Homo sapiens: one gene and its partners. The protein of the gene in region 2 interacts with the protein of the main gene of each other region in a pairwise test. Each region holds a gene or a part of one and is shown on either strand. Other genes may lie near its edges.

Region 1 (7,036 bases), on a different chromosome or scaffold from region 2:
CAGTTCAATACACAGCTATTGAGCATCTACTCTATTCCAGGCACTGTTCTAGATACAAAAGATGTGCTGGGGAACAGAGCTGACAATCTTACAATCTTTCAGGAGGTTTCCACCAATGGTGACAACATTGGTATAAAAATGTTTTTTTGTACATCTGCATTTTGTTCAGAATATATCTGTTGGAGTCCTTAGAGATGGTGTTGTTTGTAATTGCTAGTTTCTAAGATGGGATGCGGGTAGGTGTAGGACACAGTCTTACATAGATTAAGGCGTCAGGGGAGTAGGAGAATTTGATGTGTTTACTCCTCTGCGTGCGAGTGGTCAAGATGGAAAGCAATGCCTACTATTGAAATTGTCAAGCACCGACTGGATTGCCTGGTCAAGCTCTCCATGGGAGCCCATGGTAGTTCTGGGCCAACCTTGGCTCATTCGTTTAGGAGAAAGGCACTTCCCCAGGAGGCAAGTTACTCTGCTATTTGGCCTCAATGTCCTCCCACCTCCCCATTTCCTGATGCTCTCTCTAGTCAGGTTGCCTGATCATTCTCATTTGTAAGAGAAGGCCCCTTCTCAGCACTTCATGGAGATTTGTCATGTTGTCCCTTGAAGACTGATTAGACAAGGCTTCTCAACAGCATCGTCATTGACCTTTAGGAGCTATGTGGCTCCCTGGGGCCCCAGTGAGCACGTGTACCTGGTGGGAGCAAATTGCTTGCCCCCAAGGACACTGCTCACCCAAACCACAGCCAAGCCACTTGGTAAATAGTGCCAGTGACATTTTGCCTTTGGTCCACAGCTGTCACCTGTGTCATTCACTCACAATGGAAGAAATGAAGAAGACTGCCATCCGGCTGCCCAAAGGCAAACAGAAGCCTATAAAGACGGAATGGAATTCCCGGTGTGTCCTTTTCACCTACTTCCAAGGGGACATCAGCAGCGTAGTGGATGAACACTTCTCCAGAGCTCTGAGCAATATCAAGAGCCCCCAGGAATTGACCCCCTCGAGTCAGAGTGAAGGTGTGATGCTGAAAAACGGTGAGCATGTGGGGAGGGAGGGAGCTGGGATTCCCTATCAAGGCTGCCACGGATACACCAGTTCTTTGATGTACTTGACACACTTGGACACTTATATGTTTGCTAAAGGCAAGTTGCTCTGACTAGTGAGAAGCCACACCCCTTCTTAGAAGTTTAATGTCAAAATGGGGCTGCCATCTACTGCTCCAACCTTACCTCCCCAGCACTGTCCTCCAGAAACTGGCTTCCTTCTGTCCGTCATGTTCGCTTTGATTTCTTCCTGGCCTTTGCACAAACTGTTCCTTGTCTGCAAATCTCTTCCCTCCCTTCTCCTAATTAACCCACATTCATCCCAAGATCACTTCTTTAGGGCAGCTTTCCCTGACCACCCACACCCCCAAGCATTCAAATATCCTATTACAGATTCTCCTACCGTTCTTTAACTCTCCTTCACAGCCCTTGTCACAGTTGCAGTTTTTACACTTGTATAATTATTTGACTATTGCATACTCCTCCATTAAATGAAAGTTCTGTGAGGGCAAGGACCATTGCTGATTTTGCTTAATATTGTATTTCTAGCATCTAGAAACAGTGACTGTGACATAGGGGACAACCAACAAGGATTTGTTGAATGAGTAAATGAACATACAAATATGCAAATTTGTGAGCACTGTATCTAGGTACAAAGAACCTTGAAATTTCCATAAAAGACTAAAACATAAATTAGAATCTTGCTGAATAAGCCATTAGAGCAGAAGTATGTTATGATAGTTTTTAAATGTTGATAATATTTACATTTTATATAATTTATTTCCATAAATGGAAAGTTCCCAGTTGTAGAGAGGTGGTTTTGAAAAGTTTTAAAATCAAAGCTGGCTGGGTGTGATGGTTCACACCTGTAATTCCAGCACTTTGAGAGGCCAAGGCAAGAGGATCACTTGAGGTCAGGAGTTTGAGACCAACCTGGCCAACATAGTGAGACCCTGTGTCTACAAAAAAATTTAAAGAAATTATTCAGGTGTGGTGGCTCATACCTATATCTCTGGCTACTAAGGAGGGTGATGCAGAAGGATCACTTGAGCCTGGGAGGTTGAGGCTGCAGTGGGCCATGATTGCACCACTGTACTCCAGCCTGAGTGGCAAAGCAAGACCCTGTCTCAAAAGAAAAAAAAAAAGTAAAGCTACTGGAAAAAGAAAAAAAGAAGTTTAATGTAAAAATGGGTGCTGTTTAATCAAATCAGTTCACCTATTTTATTATTTCCTCAATCATGTTAAATGCTGGGTTTACTGCTCAGCACACAATGAAACTCCACAACTATTTACTGTAATCATTATCAGTATTTTTCTTCATCTTCTGTTTTTTAGAGACAGGGTCTCACTCTGTTGCTCAGGCTGGAATGTGGTGGCGCGATCATAACTCACTGCAGCCACGAATTCCTGGGCTCATGAAATTTTCCCGCCTTAGCCTCGCAAGTAGCTAGAATTACAGGTATGCGCCACCACACCCAGCTAATTTAATTTTTTTTTTTTTTTGTAGAGACAGGATCTCGCTATGTTGCCCAGGCAGGTCTTAGATTCCTGACCTCGAGCGATCCTCCCACTTCAGCCTTCCAAAGTGCTGGTATTACAGGTGTGAACCACCACACCCAGCTAGTATTATTATCACTATTATTATTACTATAGGCCTGATGGGGCAGGAACACCAAAGCATCTATGAAAAGAAAACGCATGTCCCATGTAGGTGCTCCCAGCCTCTTCTCAACTAATAGTGCATGGTTTGGTGAGCAAGGGTAGGGGCCAGAGGGAAGTAGATGAATAGTCTTGCCACATCCCTTTCCCACCCTTCACAGGGCCAGGTGTGTCTATTTGCTAATTGTTAAGAAATAAACAGTCGTACATCTCAAAACAGTTACTTCAAGATAACTAAGTCAAAATGTGCACATCAAAATATCCAGGTTTGAAGGAAGCCTTAAACATCACACTAGCAGGGGCTGTAGTATGACTTTCACGGACCCTGGACACTTTTGTCTTCATGGACCTCCTTCCTCCACAAAAACATTAAAAGTTACATTTTATGACTGCATTGGTATAAAGATGAATATAATCCAAGCTGAGTTCATGTTTTAAATATATTCAGTATCACTGTCATATTCATTTTTTCTTCTGATTTTAAAACATTTTTGTGGGCCCCTAAAACTATTAATGGGTCCTAGGCACTGTGCCTCCTGTGCCTAATGGAGAAGTCACCCTCGCCAGCTGGATGTCACTCAATATGGCTCCCTTTACCTTTTTGGAAAGTGAGCAAATATATCAGGGTCTGGTGGATTTCAAGAGCTCTTTATTGGTGTTGGTGAGTGCACATGTTGAACGACTTGCTCCCACTGGAAGACGTACGTACCTCCAAGTAGGGGCTTTTGTGTAAAGTGGACAAGTGGGGCCTCTGCCTCCAGGCAAAGAGCTCCCCTGTTTCCAGATGCCATCATTCTGGCTTTGCTTTTTGGGACTGGAGAGGGAGTTGATGTGTATCTGATGTATTCACCTTTGCAGAATTTACTTCTCTCTTAGAATTTACTTTTGCAGTCAATCAATGTGGTTTTCTCAGAGAATCTTGTGGGTTAAATAAATATGTGGAAGGGCATGGGGTAGCAGCAGATACTAAAGGAAATGATGTAGAGCTTGCTGTTAAAATGGGCAGGAGGGGGTGGGTGGGGAGTGGGGAGGTGATGTCTAAGAGTGTGCTGAATAATCACAACAGAAGCAGGAATGACCATGGTCTTGAATCATTTGGGGGATTGACATGTGGTAAGAGCTGAGAAATGTGGTGTGTGGGATTCAGAAGATCTAACTGACTCCTTGGAAGTGTCAAAATCTCGGGCAGTTAATACACAGACAAGTATACTGACTTCGGCTATTTGACTCTGATTTATTTCTGAACACATTGGCTTGGATTCATTATAATCATTCCCTTGTAAGCATCATCAAGCCATGGTCTCACTTTTTCTATTCTACTTGCCTGGTAAAACCCAAGCTGGGATAAAACCAACTCTTGGCCTATTGCCCCATTTCTCTGCTTCATTTTGCAGCAAAACTCAAAATTGGTATTTATGTGTACTCTGTCCTTTCCTCTCATGCTCTCTAAACTCCATTCCACTCATGCTTTCAACCTCATCACTCCTTGAAATCGCTCTTATCAAGGTTACCCAGTGACCTCCACTTTCCAAATCCAATGGTCCCTATCTGTCCTCATCTGATTTGACCTATCATAACATTTGCTGCAGAAGATTGCTCTCTCCTCGTGAAATACCTACTTCGCTTGCAGTCAGCCCATAACATTATGCTTTCTTGGTTTTCCTCCTGCCTCCCTGGTTACTATTTCTTCTCAGTCTCCTTTGCTATATGTCCTTCTCTCTCCAACTTCTAAACATTTCAGGGCCCCAGTACTCAGGTCCCAGACAACTCCTTTCTCTGTCTACACTTACTGTCTTGGTCTTAAATGCCATCTATATGTTGAGCAATTCCAAATGCATATCTGCAAACCAGAATGGATTTCAGACGTGCCTGTCTAACTGCCTACTTGATCTTCACTTAACATGCCTAATAGGAAACTCAAACAAAATAGCTCCCAAACTGAATAAACTCTTAATTTCCCCCTCAACCTGCTCTGCCCACAGTCTTTCCCATCTCAATAAATGGGAGCTGCACCCTTCCAATTCCTTGAAGTCATGCTTAACACCTCTCTGTCTCACACCCCACATCCAATCCTTTTGGAAATTGTGTAGGTTCTATCTTCAAAATATCCAAGATCTGACCGCATCTTCTCACCTCCGTTGTCACCTGGGTCCTAGAAGCTATCATCACCCCCCGCTGAATTGCTGCAGTCACCTCCTAATTGGTCTCATTGCTTCTTCCCTTCCTCTCCTTCAGTCTATTCTTAGGAGGGCAGTCAGAATGGTAGCATTAAAATGAAAGTCACACACTAGCACTCTTTTGTTTGAAACCCTCTGACAGCTTCCCATGTCACTTGGAATCATATCCAAAGTCTATAATGGGGCCCTACCTCATCTGGGCCCCCGTTGTCTTACTGATCTCATATCTTACCACTTTCTGCCTCACCCGCTCCAGTCTAGGCTCCTTGGTATTCATAAACTATGCCAAGGACAATCCTGCCTCAGGCCTGCCCTTTGCACATGGTCTCTCCTATCCCTGGAATGCTCTTTCCCCAGATACCTGCATGGCGTCACCTTTCTCCATTCAAGTCTCCACCTGGATGTCACCACTTCAAACAGTCCTTGTCTGAGCAACCTATTTAAAAAATGAAAGCCCCCACCCTCTCACGTCTGTCTTCTTACCCTGCTTCATTTTTCTTCTTAGCATTTGTCACCACCGGGCACATTATATGTTGTATTTCTTTCTAGACTCCTCTCTCCCCTTACCCTCTGAGCTCCGTGGCAGTAGGGACTCAATCTGTTAACTGCTGCTTTCTAAGTACCTACCACAATGCCTGACACATGGAGGCACTCAATACATACGGCTTGAACGAATGAAATTATGATTTTGATCACAAGGTGTTGACCCTACAGATGGGGGTCACCGTAGAGAGGGAGTACGGTGTGGTGTACAGCTTTAGAACCACTCAGCATGGGGCCAAGCCAGCTCCATCACTTACTAACAGTGTGATCTCCAGACATATCACTTCTCCTCTCTGTGCCTCAGTTTCCTCATCTCTAAAATGGAATAATATTGAATTATAGGACTGTGCTTGTGAGGAGTCAATGAGATAATGCATGTCAAGTGGCACATAGTAAGTGCAATGTAGTCCAAGCTTGAGTTGAGTTTTTGAACAGCTAAGATAGATGTGAGGACCTGTGTTCACAACACCAGGTTCACAGAGCAGCAGGCATCTCCCATAAGCCTCCAGGTTTTCAGGGGGTTCTGTTTCATGGCTGCCATAGAGTTTCCTGTGCCTTCTGATTTCACCTCGACCTTCTGTGAAACCCCTGCCTGCTGAGGGAAGTTGGGCATGGCCCTGTTCCTTGCCCAAGCCAGCCTTCACAGGCCAGATAGAGAGGTGGCTTGGTTCTCCATCTTCCTTCTTGGTTGTTGCATTTTCCCTATAAGAACCCCACAAATCCTTTGACTGTGAAGATGTTGTCTCCCTCACAGAGTGTGGTGCGGGCTAGGCAAATATTTGTCCGCTGATTGAGCAAATGAAGGAAAAACTGCCTCCCTCAAAGCCTCTCTTATCACCACTAGGAGTCAAGTTTCTCATAAGCTCTGCTGCCTCAGGGGAGGGCCCCATGAAAGGCTTCCAGTCCCACAGAGGTTCTCACTGGAGGTGTTATATGACATACATATGGCTTTGAAAATGGTGGGAAATCTTTCAAGTGGCCTTTCATTACTGACTGTTAGTATCCTCTCAAACCCTACAGACCAGCACCAGGCCGTCCAGCCCAGCTAGGCCATTCCAAGGAGAACAGGCTCCCATTCATGGGCTCCCATGGCCGACTCGCCCACATTCTAAGGGCTCTCTGTTGAGCCAAATATGCAAGTCCCAAACACAGAGACCCGTGTGGCTAGGAAATGCCGTCAAATTTCCTGGCTTCTCTTCCCCAATCAGTGTTGTGTTTTTATTTACTTATGTATAATTTATACTGGCTGTACTTCAGAAAAGAAAATACAAGTTGAAGGTATCTTTGAATTATCTCCCTTTTAAAAGGACATTGGGAATTTTAGAATCAGTAACTAGAGAAGCTTCAGTAACTATAGTTTGTAGGGGGCATGGTCCTGGTACGTATGCCACCCTGTGTTCTTCTTGTCCTGTCCCCAGCCCCAGTCCTGAGGCCGGCCTCAGGCCTGGCAACATTGCTCTAGGGCTGCTGAGAGAAGGTGAGAGGGTATATACGTGGGCCTTTAGAGGTCTCAAAGGATCCAGCCTCCTTCTCTCTCCCCTCCCATCTGCCATAATCAGTAAGGGTAGGGAAGAAATGCTGGCTTTTTTTAAAAAAAAAAAGTGTAAATATCTATG
Region 2 (7,036 bases):
CCATGAGTCTGTCCCTAAGTAACATATGAATCTCATTCATTTACCTTACTTTGCTCACGGTTGTCTGTGAGAAAGGAGCCATTGTCTGGTCACCAGTGGAAAACTTATGTCTGCGACATGACTCCATCATTTGCGTGCCCAAGTTCATCTTCAAAGGCATTAAGCTTGCCTTATTCACTGATTTAACCATTTTAATGTATCTTACTGAGAAAATCCTACTCTCAGCTGTAACCATAGCACAGAGAAATACTTGCTTTTTTTGTAAAGTAAGAAAACATGGAGAAATTTGATAAGTGACTTGCCAAGGCTGAAGTTTCATCATTTGAAACACCAGCCAGGAGCAAGTGCTGTGAATAAGCACTGTGGCTGATGGGTCCCAGGGCTGGGGACAGTAGGGAAGCAGGGCCTTTTCATGTTTTAACAGGTCCCCGGTCACTGAGCTACCTACGCCTTTCCCCAGTTGATCTGATCTCTCTTCAACGGTTCAGTCCCCTTCCCTGCGCAAAGCAATCCATGCAGAATCTTCAATTCCAGCTATTCTTGATTCCTCCTCAGAGTGTTCAGGGATGGCAGCTTTCCAGGTAACTCCATGGAGGCCTGCACTTTCTAACAAAAGGAATGCCTCCAAAAGGAGTTGGTTACCAGGTGTGGCATGAAGTTAGTGAACCAGAAAGAAGGGATTTATCCGCCATTTAAAAAGATTGGGGGGTGGAGAAAGAAAGGAATAAAGAAAAGAAACCAACAACAAACAGGAATGACACCTAAATCTACTTCTATCAATCTGAACCATACTTCGGAGTAAAAAGTCTTTAAAGAAAAATCATGATGGTCAGAGTTCAGTTGTAGAAAAGTATGCAAAGCTACCAAGTTTAGACTTTCTGAGGACAGGAGAGGTCTCTGGGAAATAGCTCTTCAGCAAGGCAGTAAGATGAGATTACAGTGATATTTGCTACCTTGGGTTTATTTGTTTTAATGTATTTTTTCATCTCTGAGTTGAGTCAGAAAGGCCTCGTGATTCTTGGAACATCATTGAATTTATTTCTATAATTAAGTTATTTTTAAACTAACAGTCTTAGTATATAATTTTTAAGGATCACACATACTCATGCATTTTCTACTTAAGTAAAATTTAGAGAAAAAGTAGATAGTCTTAGTAGATACTCTCCCAAGCTTTTGTATGGGCCTGGATACTAACTTTGTGTTCAATACAAATCAATGGAACTAGGGCTCTTTAGGGTATTCATTCCCTAAGGACTCACTAATGAAATTATGTGTAGCCCTTTAAAAAAAGTCACAATGAGGCTAATGAAAATTTTTTTTCTAAGTGAAATCTAGATAGAGCTAGACACTAAGCTTACTGGTACATTTTATGGACAAGTTGTAAAAAAACTCAGAATGTTTTTTAAGAACTGTTTAATATTGAAGAAGACTTTGTAACTTAAATTGTTTAAACCGATAGAAAAGTAGATTATATGCCTGCAACTTCGAAATCATTCTGGTATGACATTAAAACTTAGAGAATTTTTTAATATCAGATACAGATGAAAAATCTAACAGTCTTTGGATTGGAAATAACTTGTGGGGGTTTTCATTAAAGTTGGGTGCAGCTTGCTGCATTTTGGTTAGTTGGATGTCTTCAGCAATTTTTCAAATGTTTTGGGTTTGGCAAAGTCCAAAATGTTTTTTGCCAAGACCCTCTTTTCCCCTTATTTTTTAAACCCGTGTGAAATTCAAGGATAACTTAATCCATATGTGTCTGATTCATTTACACTTAACTCATCAAAATGTTATTTTATAAGGCCCATTTAATATCCATGGAACCTTTTGAGTCTTTTTAAGACAAGTCTTTTGTCTTTGAACCAGCAAGTTACATTTTTCCATATGAATGGAGCCTGAACCTTGAAAGACTGAAGATGAGTTGATTTTCAACTTAGCTTCTTCAAATTTTACGTAAAATCAAAGCTTGATATTCTATTTACTACTTGAGCATTGAAAAAGGTCATTCTAAAAAATATAGATTAGAAGATGTGGAAAAAAATTTATTTCATGTAATTTTGAGAAAAGACCATATATGGAAATTTCATCTTACAAATATTAAATAAATAAAAATTATTTCTAGTTTGATTTGTTTTAGTCTATAATTTAAATGGCTCCATGTTATGTATGTCAGTGTATTTTCTAAGAGTGGCCTCTGAGTCATCAGTACTGGTAGGAGGCGGTAATTTCATTTTTTAATGTCAGGGTTTTCTTACAGTCAGCTCATTAATTGTTAATTTTCATAGTAATATCTATGATGTCAATAAAATATCCCAAGATCAGGGGAATTGACAATTGGCAGGAGTTGCATGTTAAGAGATTTCTGAAAATTTGGGGCCCATATGTTTTTAAAATTCTGTGTGATTTGAAAGAATGTGGTAGAATTATGAATCTGTCAAGAAATAGCACTATGGATCAAAAACATTGTTTGAGAACAAAAATCCAGAGAGGCTAAATGGTGCCCAAGTGAAAAAAGCAAAATCTCTGTGACCCTTTTTAAAAGGACCTAGTGAAAACCTTCAGAGGCTTCTATTCATATTTGCTTAGGAGAAGTGGGTAAAGAAAGGCCATTGCCATAACTGCTAGTGAACATCCAGTCCATGCCATGGTAACTAGTTGAAAATGTTATACTGGAGTGGCATTTCCAAGTTCAGTGCTTCTATAAAGACCTGCTAGCTCACAGAATGCTTTTTTAATGTTCTGCATTGTTGTGTGTCCCCCATTGAACAACCTTTTGAGCGGACCTCGTTTTTACTAATGTAAACATTCTGACTAGTATCCAAAGAAATGACCTTTGAGTGAACCTCTAACCTTCCCCGTAAGTATTTGTTTGAAGACAGTGTGGAGTTCTCCTGCTGAGAACTAAGAACCATGATGCCTTGCAGCTCTGTGAGTAAGGGAGTGTTTGGGGGAACTGGAGAGAAAGACATAAATAAGGGAACAACCTCCAGATGTAAAGAATAAAAGAGTGAAATTAAAAAGGGAAAAAAATAGCAATTCGTTTTACCCGAAGAGTTAGCCTATACCGAAAAAAAAATAAAAATAAAAAACGCAAAACACAAAAACCAGGATTAGTAGCACATAAAAGGGGGTAAAACCCCTGCCGAGTGTTGTCCTCTATTAGAAACTTCAAGGAGAAGAGCCTTCTCTGACCCTCCTGAGCATCTCTGCTGGTTTCAAGGTGAGCTGATAAAAACGGTTCCTGGGGTGGAAATATCAGGTCAGTCCTCCTTGGTTGCTGTAAAAGTGGTGGGGAAAGAGTAGATAATTAAGTTCTTTTTCTGATTGGAGGAGGGATGCTTCTGGAAGTCTTTGTGATCTAGTCAGATATTCATTCCTCAGCAACATTTCAGGTGACAGGTGGGAAGAAAGATGCAGTTTCAACTCTCCTTTTGTTTTCACCTCTACATAGCTGATCACTTTCTTTTTTGACAACTGAGCTACACTTTCTTAAGTAATAAAGAAGTCCATTGTTTTGCAAACAAACACCATATGCAAAAGACTCCTTTGGTTTTCTCCCAGCTATTATTCCTCAGCTTAATTGTATTCCCACCAGAGTGCTCACAGGAGGCCCGACCGAGTGGGGCCTGACTGTCCTCCTCCAAAGGGACTTCAGCTTCCTCGGAACACAGAGCTGCCAGCACACACTGAATTTTTCTGGCTAATTTCAAAGAGTGAGTTTTCAGTTCCTGCCTGTGGCCCCAGGTGGACTCATTAATCATGAAGTCCCCCTGTGCTTAAGATCTGAAACTGGAAATATTGACAGATGTTATCAATGGGTATATTTTTAGGGAGAAGCTAGCTGGATGCTCCCTGCTCCTCCGAAATGCGTGGTCAGTGAATCGTGTGCATGAGCTCAAATGTGTGGGGAATACACGTCGTTAAGTGCACAGGGACAAGGGTAACTCACAAATGGTAGAAAATTGTTTTGTTTTTATTAAATTTGGAGAAATAAAGGAGATTTCTTATCATCTTACTCTGTTTGTACATGAATATTTGATGGGCATTATTAAACATTAAAGTAACATGAAGTAGGCACTTATTTTTGGATTTCCAACAAAATTAGATCCAGGCTTCTTAGATGAAATAACTGCTTCTCCTTTGCATTCCTGCGATTCAGCCACCACCTGATTTGCAAACGTTTCTTGAGCTCTAATATCAAACATGTGTACCTGAGGCTCTGTCTTTCTAGTGGGTTGAAAGGTGGCTGGGTTTATGGTTGGCAGTTACCTTATCCTCTGCCCTGGGTGTCCCAGCTTAGGCTGGAAAGGCTGCCCCCAGCTGGCACTGACCTCTGAATGACCCCTAACTTTACAGGCTTAAACTGCAGGAGTTGCCGAAGAGCAGAAGTCTTTCTGGCCAGCACTTATTACTGCTGTGTTGGTGATAAAACTTCAGACAGCCTAATTGATGGCTTTGCTGACCTAACAATACCTTGTGAAAGCCGAGTGCTAGAGCCTGGTCTCCATTTATGACCAGCTGCAAGGGGAAGCTGGGTCTCCCTATCACGGGGAGTCTAGGGAAAGGGGGAAAGTCTTCCAGCCTGTGAACTTTAACCAGATTCCTACTTGTGCAAGAAGCAGAAGCACAATTTGAAGTTAATAGAAGCTTTCTCATGGAGAACTTTATTCCGTCCCTGAGCTCTTCTAGCAAGTTGTTTTGGAGTTGACTACGCAGTGACGACGGAGATTACCCAGTCAACTATTTTTGAACGCTGAAAGGGAAAATCACCTTTAAATTGAAAAGATAATTTTCAGAAGAGATTTGACTGTATTTTGTGCTCCTCAGCATTCATGCAAAGGTGTTCGCAGAGTACAGAAACGGAGTATGATGACTGGACTTCTCTGTTCTCTTTCAGGTTTATTAATGCCAGAAGAAGAATAGTACAGCCCATGATTGACCAGTCAAATCGAGCAGGCAAGTTCCAAGTAGTATCTATATTTATGTCCCACAGGCACAAATCCTCATCAAGTTATACTCCAGTAGTTTCCTCATCTGATAAATAAGTGCTTCCACCAGGCATTCTGGATTTTTTTTTTTAATGTCCCCAGAATCCCACTCAAGGAAGCAACTTCAGTAAGTGGTGCTAATTGGAGATTTCCCACCCTGACTCTACTGACACTGCTTTTTATTTTCTTTCTGAATTGGTAATTGGGCACAGGTATTAATGCCACAAGCAGCGTGTTTGTGAGCTCTGGCATTACCCCTTGCTTGTCTGCATCCAATCATTAGCACACTCTCATTTTTCTGTTACCCACAGCTCCTTGGTGTATGCTAGGCTTTCCTTTCTGTAGCATCTGCTGTTAAACTTATTGTATCCATTCATTTGCTTTGGCTATTCATAATATCCTATTAAAGCCTGACTTGCTGCATTGCCACCATTATTTTTTATTAAAGAATATTACCTTTGTATAAAATGCTTCACATCCATGCTGCTAAAATACATGTGAGCTTTTCTCAGAATTCTCTCAATTTCTCTAAAACAGTTTTTGTATGGTACTATCAGAACCCTCCTGGTATACTCCAAGTCGTTTTATTTTGAAACAGACATTTCCTCAGTTTACTGAGGGTTTGTGGTCTCCTGCAATAAGGCTTATAGGGAAAAACAGTTTTCCTTGGGGTGATGACTGCTGCCACTAACAACGGTGTTAAACTTGATGGAGATTTTACCTGTGGCCTCGCTTTAAAGGATTTGTGAAAATTAGTCATCCTTTGGCAAAATTTCCCCAATAACGCCAAAATATGTTCCCACTATTGGAGGCTAGGGAGAAGAACATAAAACAATGGAAATATTATATTTACTAAGTTTATATTTCCTTGGTGTGAATAAAAAGGCAAGCTTTTAATTGAGTCTATTTAACCTTGTGAAATTGTATTCAGGTTTAAAATGTTTGTGTAAAATATGAACATTTTGTATTAAGCCACCAGAGATGGCAGCCTCAGAGAATCCCAACCAAATGGTACATTGCAATATTTGTATATGGGGTACCCCTAACTTCTCCAGCCTTCGTCCCCCTAATCAAGAGATAAGTAAAAAAGCAAGGGCTGCAGAGGACGAACCCCCTGGGAAACTGGCCAGTGAAGTCTTTCTTCCAGAACATTTTTAAAGCTACTCACACACCTTCACTCAGTCATCAAGACACTCAGACAAACCACACCCCCATTTGTAGAGTGCCAACCACATTGTTGCTATAACGTTTCAGTGCTGCAGCGGGAACAATTGCTGATTGTTTGGTATATCTTTTCTTCTTTCTCCTCTGTGTCCTCGAATGACCACAATCAGGTTTTCTTCTTGATCCTTCAGTGAGCCAAGGAGCAGCATATAGTCCAGAGGGTCAGCCCATGGGGAGCTTTGTGTTGGATGGTCAGCAACACATGGGGATCCGGCCTGCAGGTAGGTTGGCTCATCCCGCCTCTGGGCTTCCCTGGGAAGTGCCACCTGCTCCACCAGCCTCTCCATCCACTCTACTATCCCACTGTCATGGTGGGTTTAACATTTGCCTGCTGCCTGCTCTGCCTGCTTTCTTTACATTGGGTGGGGGAAAAAATTCCTCTTTGAAAAAGTAAAGATTTTACCACAGTACCATTATACTCTGCCCCATACACATCCTTTTTCTTTTTTCTTTTTAAACCAAGGCAATAAGTGAAAAGGAATCTGAGTTTCCTTCTATTTTTTCACCATCAATTATTGCTGATTTTCCGGCCTCTTCTTGGATTTTATCTCCTTTCTAGGACCTATGAGTGGAATGGGCATGAATATGGGCATGGATGGGCAATGGCACTACATGTAACCTTCATCATGTAAAGCAATCGCAAAGCAAGGGGGAAGTAAGTACAGTCGGGTGCGATCTGTCTTCACTATCACTTCAGAGACTTTATTTTATTTTTTATAATTTGCCCCCATTTTATTTTTCCTTGCCCATAACTGCATGCCTTTCCAAACTAAGGACCTGTTTTTAAATATATATCACCCATCTCTGAAGTCACAGATGACACTGAT
Region 3 (4,847 bases), on a different chromosome or scaffold from region 2:
TGGTTTCTCCATCTGTAAAATATAGATTATAGAACCCACAGAGAAAGTGTATTGTGAGGACTGGAAAAGGTGTAAATCACCTGGCGCAGTGGCTGGCTCAGTGAATGGCCTCACCCATCAAATGGCCTCCCTGCTTGATGGGTGCGGTCACAGGCCTGGCTTCTCCTGGAGACAACAGGGTGTGATGATGGATGGATGGTTGGAAAGATAGGACAATGGGAGAATGGCTTCCTTCCACCCTTTCTGCACTCTCCCTGACTTCCTGCTCCTCAATTCCCATGATAAACATTGGTGATTGGCCACCTGACAGGGTGAGTGATTCTTACCCATAAATGTTTGTGCAGATTTACTTCCAGTTGCACCTGCATCATCCATTCATCCACTGACCAATCCATCATCCAGTTATCCATCCTTCTACCTAATCACTTACTCTTCCATCCATGTACCCACATATCCACTACCCACCTTCCCATCAATCCAGTCAACTAATATGAAGTAGCCACTTTCTTTGTAAGGCTCTTAGCTGGCATACAGGATGCAGATATAATCCAGACACAGTTGTTGTCCTGAATACCTCATAGACTGGAGATAAGGAAAGGGCCCTGTGTGTGTGTCAGATCTGTTCCAGGGCAGAGGCTGGAAAAGACCTAGTGTGTGACTCAGAACCCACGTGGCTTAGGCTGCAAGACTCCCCTCCCATCTCCCTATCCTGGGTGGGAAGCTCTACCTCTGGGATGGGTACTGTTAGGTTAAAGATGGTTTCTGGGTTTGGAGCTAGAGGAGCTAATGTTTCCCCCTCCAATATTACTCCCTGGACAGCATAAAGGTCACTGACCCCCAGCTGCTGGAACTTGGCCTTGTGCAGAGCCCTGATGGCCACCGTCTCTATGTCACCATCCCTCTCGGCATAAAGCTCCAAGTGAATACGTGAGTGGGTCCCAAGAGGGGGTGAGAGGATGGCTCACCGAGGGAGACCCTGGTGACCATGGTTAACCATAACGGGGGTATTGGAGTCTAACAGACCTGAGCCTCCAACTTCAGCTCATTTGCTGCTATGCTAAGTGGCCTTGGGTCACTTGGGAAACTCACTTGACCTCTTAAGTCTTTGTTTCTCCTGCTAGAAAATGAGATAAGTACAACTGTGGGCAAGATGGAGTGAGGTGAGGCTAGCATTCTTGGCAAGGAGAAAATAACCCTCTTCCTTGGAATGTGGTGGAGCTAGATACCAGTGGGGCTGTCTCCTTTGCAGGCCCCTGGTCGGTGCAAGTCTGTTGAGGCTGGCTGTGAAGCTGGACATCACTGCAGAAATCTTAGCTGTGAGAGATAAGCAGGAGAGGATCCACCTGGTCCTTGGTGACTGCACCCATTCCCCTGGAAGCCTGCAAATTTCTCTGCTTGATGGGTGAGGCCAGAGGAGCAGCTTATCCTGCCCAGAGATGACAGGGTGTGATGCCGGATGGATGATTGGAAAGCTGAGACAATGAGAGAATAGATGAGTGAGAGGCTGAAAGGGTGGGAAAATGGATGGGAAGGAGGGAGCGTGGAAAGATGGATGGATGGATGGATGGATGGATGGATGGATGGATGGATGGATGGACAGATGGTTAGATGGTTGGGTTGATGGAGAGAAGGATGAATAGATAGATGGATGGATAGATAGATGATAGATAGATAGATAGATAGATAGATAGATAGATAGATAGATAAAGTAGTACTTATTCCTTCTTAGACCAAGCTAACCAATTTTATGCTGGATCTAGCAACAAGAAATTGGAGTTTAAGCCCTGCATATTACAGGGGAATGGGGATAGAGGGCTTCCTGTGTGAACCTGGGTAGTGCTTCTCCAATTTAGTTCTAAGCTTACTTATCTGCAATATGGAACTGCACTGGAGTTATTGATAGAACCTACCAAGATAACAGGTGTGAAAGTGCTTTGTCCCAGTAAGGGGTAAAATAGACGTGGATCCTAACTAGGTTATTTATTTCAGTTACCTGTCACATGGGGAGACTGTGTCAAACCTATTACGCAAAAGTTGCCCACGTGGTTAACTTTTAATGAACACATACATTGGGCTTCACATGTGTCATCTCATTGGATCATAATGACAACTACATACTAAGTAGTATCCATTCATTTATGGACTCTGCAAAGCCTTATTGGCACCTGCTTTTTCTGAGAACCATGTGTTTATCCTACACATACCTGTGTGTTCACTGCTGTACACAAATGTAACTCCCTTTACATAAGACCCTTGCTGTTGGCCTGCACGTGGGTGTAGATAGACAAGGCTCGGCTTTAGTGACTGAGTGTTGAGACTGTGGGGTTCACAGTGGCCCCCTCTGGAGACTTCTCCACACCATCTCCAGGTCCCTGCATCACCCATGACTTTTCTCTTTCAGACTTGGCCCCCTCCCCATTCAAGGTCTTCTGGACAGCCTCACAGGGATCTTGAATAAAGTCCTGCCTGAGTTGGTTCAGGGCAACGTAAGTAGGCAAGGTGGGGATCCCCTGATCCTCAGGTTTTAGAGCTTCTTGCACTAAAACAAAGCCCTGAGCTAAGTGGGTCCGAGTCCCTCAATTTGATAAGTAACTTCCATTCATCAATCTATTTGTCCATTGATCCATCTGTCCATGTTTCTTCTTTACATCTTTCCAAATGCATTGATGAGTCTCTGCTCTAGGCCAGGCCCTGCTTGTCCACACTGAAGCTGAAATGGATTGGCCCCTGTTCTGAGAAATTGGAGAAGTTCCCTGTCCAGCCTTCTATGGCCACAGACAGTCTTTCAACCTATGCTTGGGTGTCTCCTATAACCAGGGCACTCCACTCCACTTAGAATCAGATGTGATGTCACAGGGTGAACACTGGGCTTGTTGTGTGATTTGGGGCCCTTCACAACATCCCTCATGCCTCCAGTTTCTCCTCAGGCATGTGTGACCATTGATCTGTGGGATTGCTTAGAATCACTTTCACACAGAAAAATGACAGGAAATTTCCCCAGAGAACCCCCACTAGGGATTCTGCTGCTCCAGGGTGCCACTCTGCCTAACTCTCCTCTCTGCCCCTGGCCAGGTGTGCCCTCTGGTCAATGAGGTTCTCAGAGGCTTGGACATCACCCTGGTGCATGACATTGTTAGTAAGTACCTGCTTTCAAGCCCTCTGTCCCTCTCTGCAGGAGCAGCAACTTCCCCCAAGGAGTTTTTTCCCTGCACACCCTAGGATACTAGGTCCCTCTGGCCTCAACTCTCTCTATTTTGGGCTTCATTTTCCCCCGAATAATCCAGATAATTTTGAGATAGACACCGTGTCTCCTGCCTCAGCCCTGACACTGAGGACAGCTGGGCTGGTTGGTAGAAGGAGGCCTGGCTTCCTCCAAGCATGCTGAACACAGTCGGATCTCCAGAGGCCTCCATTCCCTGGCCCCCCACCTTGAGGAATATGGACTCCTTCACGTTGAGATCATAACTGTCGTCTGTTTTTTTATTGCTTGTTTGTTTGTTTAGACATGCTGATCCACGGACTACAGTTTGTCATCAAGGTCTAAGCCTTCCAGGAAGGGGCTGGCCTCTGCTGAGCTGGTAAGTGCCCTTCCCCACACCCCAGGGTTTTGGGGGCTGGCTGTTCTTCTCCTGGTAGAAGGCAGACGGGAGCTTGGGACAATGACATCCAAAGAAAGAGACAAACATCTACAGAGGTACACACAGGGATGCACAGAGAAATCCACAGAAAAGCTGACAGAGGTGGAAGGATGCAGGCAGCACAGCAACACAGCTACCAAGAGAAACACACACACAAATGCCCAGACACATGGCCACTGATACAGATGCACACACTCTCACACCAGCACACTCACACACATGCACACATTGGTGGACTCACCACACACAGACACACACACTCTCACCCAGCACCCTCACACATATGCACACATCAGTGGACTCACCACACATAAGTACACGTGGATACACAGACACACTCACTCAAACACATGCTCACAGAGCCCTGACTCCAGGCCTGATGGCTTGCCCAGGGTCTCAGCCTCCTCCTGTCCCTCTGGGGCATGAGTTTGATGATGAGTCAATATCAGTAACGCTCACTGACCTTGAGTCTCCATCCTGATTAGGGTCTTCCCCCAACAGAACTATTTCTTGCTGCTCAATCCATTTCCTCTGGCCCAGCTTCCCAGTGCTCACAGATGGCTGGCCCATGTGCTGGAAGATGACACAGTTGCCTTCTCTCCGAGGAACCTGCCCCCTCTCCTTTCCCACCAGGCGTGTGTAACATCCCATGTGCCTCACCTAATAAAATGGCTCTTCTTCTGCATCAGGGGCCTTGTCATCCTTCACCATTACTTGAGGGCTCCTGGGTTGGAAACAGCCCTGGCCTGGGTGGTTGGGCCCATAGCATAGAGTTTGGCACTTACTTTGTAGATCTGAATAGTCTTGAGCAGGTCAGGGAGATGTTCAAGTGTGTGTGGATTTCAGAAGGCTTTCCCAGGTGTCCTTAGAAAGGGGGAATAAGGCATTCAGGGTAGATATAATACTCCAGGTACAGTTAATGACATACAAGTTTGCCGCACCACGAATGAAAATGGCAGATTTGTGTTAGGGAAATGCAAATTAGAACTACAATGAAGGCCAGGTGCCGTGACTCCCGTCTGTAATCCCAGCACTTTGGAAGGCCAAGACAGGCAGATCAGTTAAGGGCAGAAGTTCAAGACCAGCCTGACTGACATGGCAAAACCCTATCTCTACCAAAAATACAAAAATTAGCCAGGGGTGGTGGTGTGTGCCTGTGGTCCCAGCTACTCGAGAGGCTGAGGTGAGAGAATTGTTTAAGCCCAGGAT
Region 4 (6,072 bases), on a different chromosome or scaffold from region 2:
CTCCCTGTTCCTTAGTGTGTTTGTCCGAAATCCCATCACATAGGTCATGGGCATCTGATGCATAATGGACACTTGACTGGTTCATGCCCCCTGGTCTTTGATGCTGTGTTGGGATGTTTTTCTGACCTTTATGTGGGGTGTCTTGTCTTCTCTCATCATATTACATCCCTTCCCTCACCCCCACGTCCGTCCTCTGAACCCAGGCAGTACACCAGTGTCTGCATGTGTGCCGTGTGTTCCTGCCTCACTTTCCCCTTTTCATGCCTTATTCTGACCATGCTACGTTTTCTTCTCAGTTGAACAGACACGGTAGAAGACTCGCCCATTTTGGAATGTGACCGTCTGTCCTTCAGGAGAGGACACCAGGGTGGGGGTGAAGGAGACACTACTGCCCCCACCCCTGACAGCCCCCACCCCATGGCTTCCATCTTTTGCATCACCACCACTCCTGAACCCCCATTTCTGATTTGTCAGAATTTTTTTTTAACAAAACTAAAAATGAAACACATGTGTCTGTGGTATCTATAAGTGCTTCGTCCCTTTATTGTATTTGGGGTGAGGTTATTTTAGGGCATGGTCCAGGGTGAATTCCTATAAGGCCTGGGTGCCCTGCCTGCTGTGAGATCAAAGGGGAATGGGACTAAGACTGCAGAGCCCTGGCTCCCCCACTGCCTGCCAATTGCCTGCGCTTTGTGGTCTCTTCCACTTTCTCTGGCCTGGGAAGACGCTGGGGTGTTTATGATCCCAAGGCTCCTGGTGGGTGGTGCGTGTATTTTCAGCGCCGGAGGGTGCTGTGGGCACTGGGGGAAACTTAGGCGCCTCCTCCAAGGCTCTCTTGGTGCCTCCTCATCTGTTCCTTCAGCTTCTGGATCTTGAGCACCAGGGCTTGGGCCTCCCAGGCTCCCTCCTGCCCTTCAAGGAGGGCCTGGTACAGCTCCAGCTGCTGCTCCAACAACTCTTCAGCTCGGGCCAGCTCAGCTGTGCGGTGGGTCCCAGGGCCCTGGTCAGGGAATTAAGGGAGGGAGCATCAGCCAGGGCAGGGGGCTGAGGCCCTGGGAAGCTTTGTTGCAGGCTGTGGCTGGAAGTGAGAAATTCCACCTTCCCTATTCGTTTTTGAACCGGTCGTTTAAGGACACCTGTACTGAGAAGGCCAGGTAGCTTCCTGTCTTGGGCATAGGCCTCTGGGTGGTAGTAGGGGGAGCAAATAGAGTTCCCTGGCCCAGGGGCTGTAACTGGCTTCCTTGAACAAGGATATGGGGTCACTGGAAAGAGGATCAGCTGCTCCTCCCCGCTAAGAAATAATTAACTGTTAGGTGAGGGGGAATAGATCCTGTTCAAGGACTTTGTGGACTGTGCTGTTGTGGGTGGGGGTGGGGTGAGGGAAGGGAACCCTGAGGTCTGGGCTGGGGGAGGTGGGGAGAGGAGTTGGTAGCTGAACTAAGAAAAGAGCTGCAGGGGTAGGCATGGTGTGGGGTGGTGCAGGGTGGGATTGAGGGTTTTTTTTTCCCACACCCCAGTGTAAATTCTCACACCCTCTGTTCCTACCTGTGGTGCCACTTACCCTGGGAGGGGACGTCATCTTCCCATTTCCTCTGGAGCTGGTCTGCTCTTCCATGCTTGCTTTGGGGTTTTGGGAGCAGCACCCATGGGAGCCCTGGGGTGCCAAGGACCAGGAGGGCAGAAGGAGGCGAAGGAAATGGTACCGAGAGAGCCAGGGCAGAGGGAGGACCATGGCGGGTGACCTGGCAGGGAGCTGTGTGAGCTGTCCAACGGCCACCAGGAACTGGTTCGCTCCAGGACTTGGCCTCACTTGAGTGCCTGGCCCTGCCCAGGCCCCAGCCCCCAGCCCTGCCCCTGCCCCTGCCCCACTCTGCCCCACGTCTCTCCCAGCCTGGCCCCAGACAGAGTCCAGGAACAACTCCTGTTCCTGATGTGAAAAATGTCCCTGCCAGTTTAGGCAGAACTTGCTTTAGAGCACTGGTGCCCAGCCTACCACAGGTCTGTGATTTTTTTTTTTTGATCTAGTGTTTATTAGGTATGAATTTTACAAACATTAGCGGTAGCTGTGGAGCTGGAGAGTATTGCACCTTCTCCAAGCTGCATGGCGAGAACCACCAATAGTGTGGTAGAACTTACAGCCCTTTCCAAGGCCGTGGCTCTCTTGGCCTGCAGATAGCCTACGCATCTCCCTATGCTTGTTGTGGACCACTGGGTGTCAGGTTTCCTTCTGATAGTGTTATGGAATGGATCAACTAGGATAGCCTCAAAAACTTTGTATGTGGAATCTTTAACCAGCCCAGTGAGAATTCAGGACTCAGAGCCCCACAGTGGCATCCAGCTTGCTCTTCTGTAACAGACTGAAGGCTTTAAGCAAACTAGCTGGTTAACACCATGATAGACAGGCTTGCTGTTAAGTTGCCTTCTTAGGAACTAGATTTTCAGCCACCGTGGCGCTTATATGTAACATAACCTTGCTTGGCTGTAGCCCAGTAGCGTGCTTTATTGGGCTGGGTGGGGCGGGGATCCCTGTGGAGAGCAGAGAGCTGGTGGTACTGCCAGCAGCGGACCCTCAGAAGAAAGCTCATGACATCAGACTGCTTCTTCCATAGCTTCTGGATGTACTTGTATGCACCATCTTGGTTTACCCAGTGGCTGCTGCCAGACAGAAAGGAAAGGCTACCACAGGTCTTGTGTCTTTTTTTTTTTTTTTTTTTTTTTGAGACGGAGTCTCGCTCTGTTGCCCAGGCTGGAGTGCAGTGGCGCAATCTGGGCTCACTGCAAGCTCTGCCTCCCGGGTTCACGCCATTCTCCTGCCTCACCCTCCCGAGGAGCTGGGACTACAGGTGCTCGCCACTACGCCCGGCTAATTTTTTGTATTTTTAGTGGAGACGGGGTTTCACCGTGTTAGCCAGGGTGGTCTCGATCTCCTGACCTCATGATCCGCCCGTCTTGGCCTCCCAAAGTGCTGGGATTACAGGCGTGAGCCACCGCACCCGGCATTTCTTAACACTGTCTTTTCTCACTTCACTCTGCAAGGTAGGAATTACCTCACTGGTTTGCACCTGAGGAAACTGGCTCAGATGGTTTCATTCAGCATTCACTGGGGAAGTGTCTGTTGGGGGCAGCTCTAGGCTGGATGTGCTCGAAGGTCCATAGCTGGTTGTTGGTAGGGCCTGGAGGGTTCATGTCTAGGTCCACCTGACTTGAAAGCTCATCCTGACCTTGCTTAAGTGCTGATTCCCCTTTGCAGATGTACCTTTTATTGTGCTTCCCTTTATTGCTCTTTGCAGATGCTGTTTTTTATTTAGAGATTGGAGGCTTGTGGCAACCCTGTGTCAAGCACATCAAACAGGTCTATTGGTGCTATTTTCCCAACAGCAGGCAGACATCATGTCTCCATGTCACGCTGTGGAATTCTCAAAATGTTTCAAGCGTTTTCATTATTATACTTGTTACAGTGACCTGTAATCAGTTACTGAAGTTAACTATTGTGATTGTTTTGGGACACCATGAGCGATGCTCATATAAGACAGCAAACTTAATGGAAAAATGTGTGTGTTGTGACTGCTTCACCAACTGGCCATTCTCCCGACTCTGCTTTCCAGGCCTCCCTATTCCCTGAGGCACAACAATATTGAAAGGAATAATCCATGCGGCAAATGGCAAACATCATTGTCTTATTTTAAGAAGTTGTCAAAGCAGCCTTCAGCAGCCATGCCCCTGATCCATGGAGGCAAGACCCTCCCCCAGCAAAAAGATCAGGATTAGCTGAAGCCTCATATGATGGTTAGCATTTGTTTAGCAATTAAGTATTTTAAAATTAAAGTATATGGCCAGATACAGTGGCTCACGCCTGTAATCCCAGCACTTTGGGAGGCCGAGGTGGGTGGATCACTTGAGGTCAGGAGTTCAAGATTAGCCTGGCCAACATGGTGAAACCTCATCTCTACTAAAAATACAAAAATTAGCTGGGCATGGTGATGGGCACCTGTAGTCCCAGCTACTTGGGAGGCTGAGCAGGAGAATGGCTTGAACTCAGGAGGCGGAGGTTGCAGTGAGCCAAAATCGTGGCACTGCACTCCAGCCTGGGTGACAGAGCGAGACTCCATTAAGTATATACACAGTTTTTTGTACACAATGCTACTGTACACTTAACAGACTACAATATAGTACAAACATAACTTTTATGCACAATAGGAAACTAAAAAGTTTGTGTGACTCACTTTGTTGCTATGGTCTGGAAACAAATCTTCAGTATCTCCGAGGTATGCCTGTCATTTCCCTTTCCCTCTTCTTGCTGGCCCAGAATGACCTTGTTTCTTGCCCCTGTCTAGCCCTGCATGCTGTAGGGGTTTGCCTTCTCTGGTAGGTCTGGGCACTTTGTATCCCTTGTAACCTTGGCTCCTGGGATATGACACTGGTACAACTGGCCTCAAGTTCTGTTGGACTAGTGAGCCTCCCCCAACACCTCCTGAAGTAGAACCAAAGGCCTGTGCACACACCGTGCATGTGTGAGTCTGCATAGAGATGTCAGCTTCCTGCAGGGTGTTCTGAAGGGATGTCCTGTTGTGACTGGACTGTGACATAGCCACAGGCCCAGAGGCAGGAGTGGCTCAGAAGGGAGTGGCTGGTCCCAATTTTGATCATCTAGGAACAGGAAGGTCCTTAGAAAACCATGCCCCAGAAGGCAGGATTGCTGGAGAGTGGACAGCTGCTAGCCAGCTCGCTATCTGGATATCACTCTGCATTGGGAGGGAAGATGGCCTCTGCCATGGTGTAAGAGTCCAGGAACCAGGCAGTGAGGACTTCCCAGCGGTCAGTGCTTCTCACACTTGCGGGCCAAAGCACCTTTAGATGAGGCCAAAGACTTTACGTTCCTCATTAGCTGACTTTTTCCCACTTAAGTGGAAAAAGAACCCAGAACCTTTGTAAAAGTTTAAGGGGAGAAGGGCTTTCCCTCTTGTATCTTGGTGATAAGGTTATGCATGACTCATACTTTAATTGCAATGTGTACACAGCTAAAGTCTTAATTATTAGAATATAAGAGCCCCAAACTACTGTTATTATAGATAAGCGAAACTATGCAGTATATGGTTAAACAAACCACAACTAATTAACATTGAAAGTTGGCCGGGCGCAGTGGCTCATGCTTGTAATCCCGGCACTTTGGGAGGCCGAGGCAGGGGGATCGCTTAAGGTCAGGAGTTCAAGACTAGCCTGGCGAACATGATGAAACCCCGTCTCTACTAAAAATACAAAAAATTAGCTAAGCGTGGTGGTAGCCACCTGTAATCCCAGCTACTTGTGAGGCTGAGGCAGGAGAATTGCTTGAACCTGGGAGGCGGAGGTTGCAGTGAGCTGAGATTGTGCCACTGCACTCCAGCCTGGGCGACAGAGCAAGACTCCGTCTCTCAAAAAAAAAAAAAAAAAAAAAAAAAAAAAAAAAAAAAGAAAAGAAAAAAAATTAACTACATTTTTGGGAGGTGGACAGAGCAATGCTCTGTCACCCAGGCTGGAGTGCAATGGCACAATCTCTGCTTGCTGGAACCTCCGCTTGCCGGGTTCAAGCAATTCTTATGCCTCTGCCTCCCAAGAAGCTGGGATTACAGACGTGTGCCACTATGCCGAGCTAATTTTTGTATTTTTAGTACAGACAGGGTTTCACCATGTTGGCCAGGCTGGTCTTGAACACCTGGCCTCAAGTGATCCGACTGCCTCAGCCTCCCAGAGTGCTGGGATTACAGGTGTGAACCACCGTGCCTGGCCCTCTATCTGTTAATTTAAAAGATTAGCAGCCATTTAGAAAAAACAACAAATGAGACTTTTGCAAGACAATCTAAATGATACACTAATAACAATCCTTTGGGAAAGTGACATTTCAACCATGTGAGTTTCTGCTTTAGGTTATGAACTCCAAAATGGACTAAATGGACTAACCCCCAATAATTTATAGTAGCTAGTTTTTTTTTTTTTTCACAGTAGGTAATTCTAAACCATAAATAAAATAGAATCTGAATTTTGGCTTTGTTCACCTGTGGGAACTTAATTAAGAAAGCACTGGCCTTTGGGTCG

The links.
Region 1: the proteins of MEIS2 (region 2) and VGLL1 interact in binary tests that used the Homo sapiens proteins (3 or more experiments, as listed by UniProt).
Region 3: the proteins of MEIS2 (region 2) and BPIFA1 interact in binary tests that used the Homo sapiens proteins (3 or more experiments, as listed by UniProt).
Region 4: the proteins of MEIS2 (region 2) and MCCD1 interact in binary tests that used the Homo sapiens proteins (3 or more experiments, as listed by UniProt).

Annotation. Positions count from the first base shown.
Region 1 is NC_000023.11:136,535,203-136,542,238, forward strand, and holds part of VGLL1 (transcription cofactor vestigial-like protein 1), read left to right. Parts: intron 1-793; 5' UTR 794-818; coding exon 819-1,032; intron 1,033-7,036. UniProt on the Homo sapiens protein: May act as a specific coactivator for the mammalian TEFs.
Region 2 is NC_000015.10:36,894,545-36,901,580, reverse strand, and holds part of MEIS2 (homeobox protein Meis2), read left to right. Parts: intron 1-4,894; coding exon 4,895-4,953; intron 4,954-6,319; coding exon 6,320-6,430; intron 6,431-6,768; coding exon of another isoform or gene 6,769-6,827; exon of another isoform or gene 6,828-6,864; intron 6,865-7,036. UniProt on the Homo sapiens protein: Involved in transcriptional regulation. Binds to HOX or PBX proteins to form dimers, or to a DNA-bound dimer of PBX and HOX proteins and thought to have a role in stabilization of the homeoprotein-DNA complex.
Region 3 is NC_000020.11:33,238,984-33,243,830, forward strand, and holds the end of BPIFA1 (BPI fold-containing family A member 1 precursor), read left to right. Parts: intron 1-819; coding exon 820-927; intron 928-1,249; coding exon 1,250-1,402; intron 1,403-2,401; coding exon 2,402-2,486; intron 2,487-3,072; coding exon 3,073-3,136; intron 3,137-3,503; coding exon 3,504-3,544; 3' UTR 3,545-3,578; exon of another isoform or gene 3,579-3,686; intron 3,687-4,101; exon of another isoform or gene 4,102-4,123; 3' UTR 4,124-4,323; downstream 4,324-4,847.
Region 4 is NC_000006.12:31,524,675-31,530,746, reverse strand, and holds MCCD1 (mitochondrial coiled-coil domain protein 1 precursor), read right to left. Parts: upstream 1,786-6,072; 5' UTR 1,733-1,785; coding exon 1,562-1,732; intron 1,001-1,561; coding exon 812-1,000; 3' UTR 515-811; downstream 1-514. Other genes in the region: spliceosome RNA helicase DDX39B, read left to right, coding at 297-313.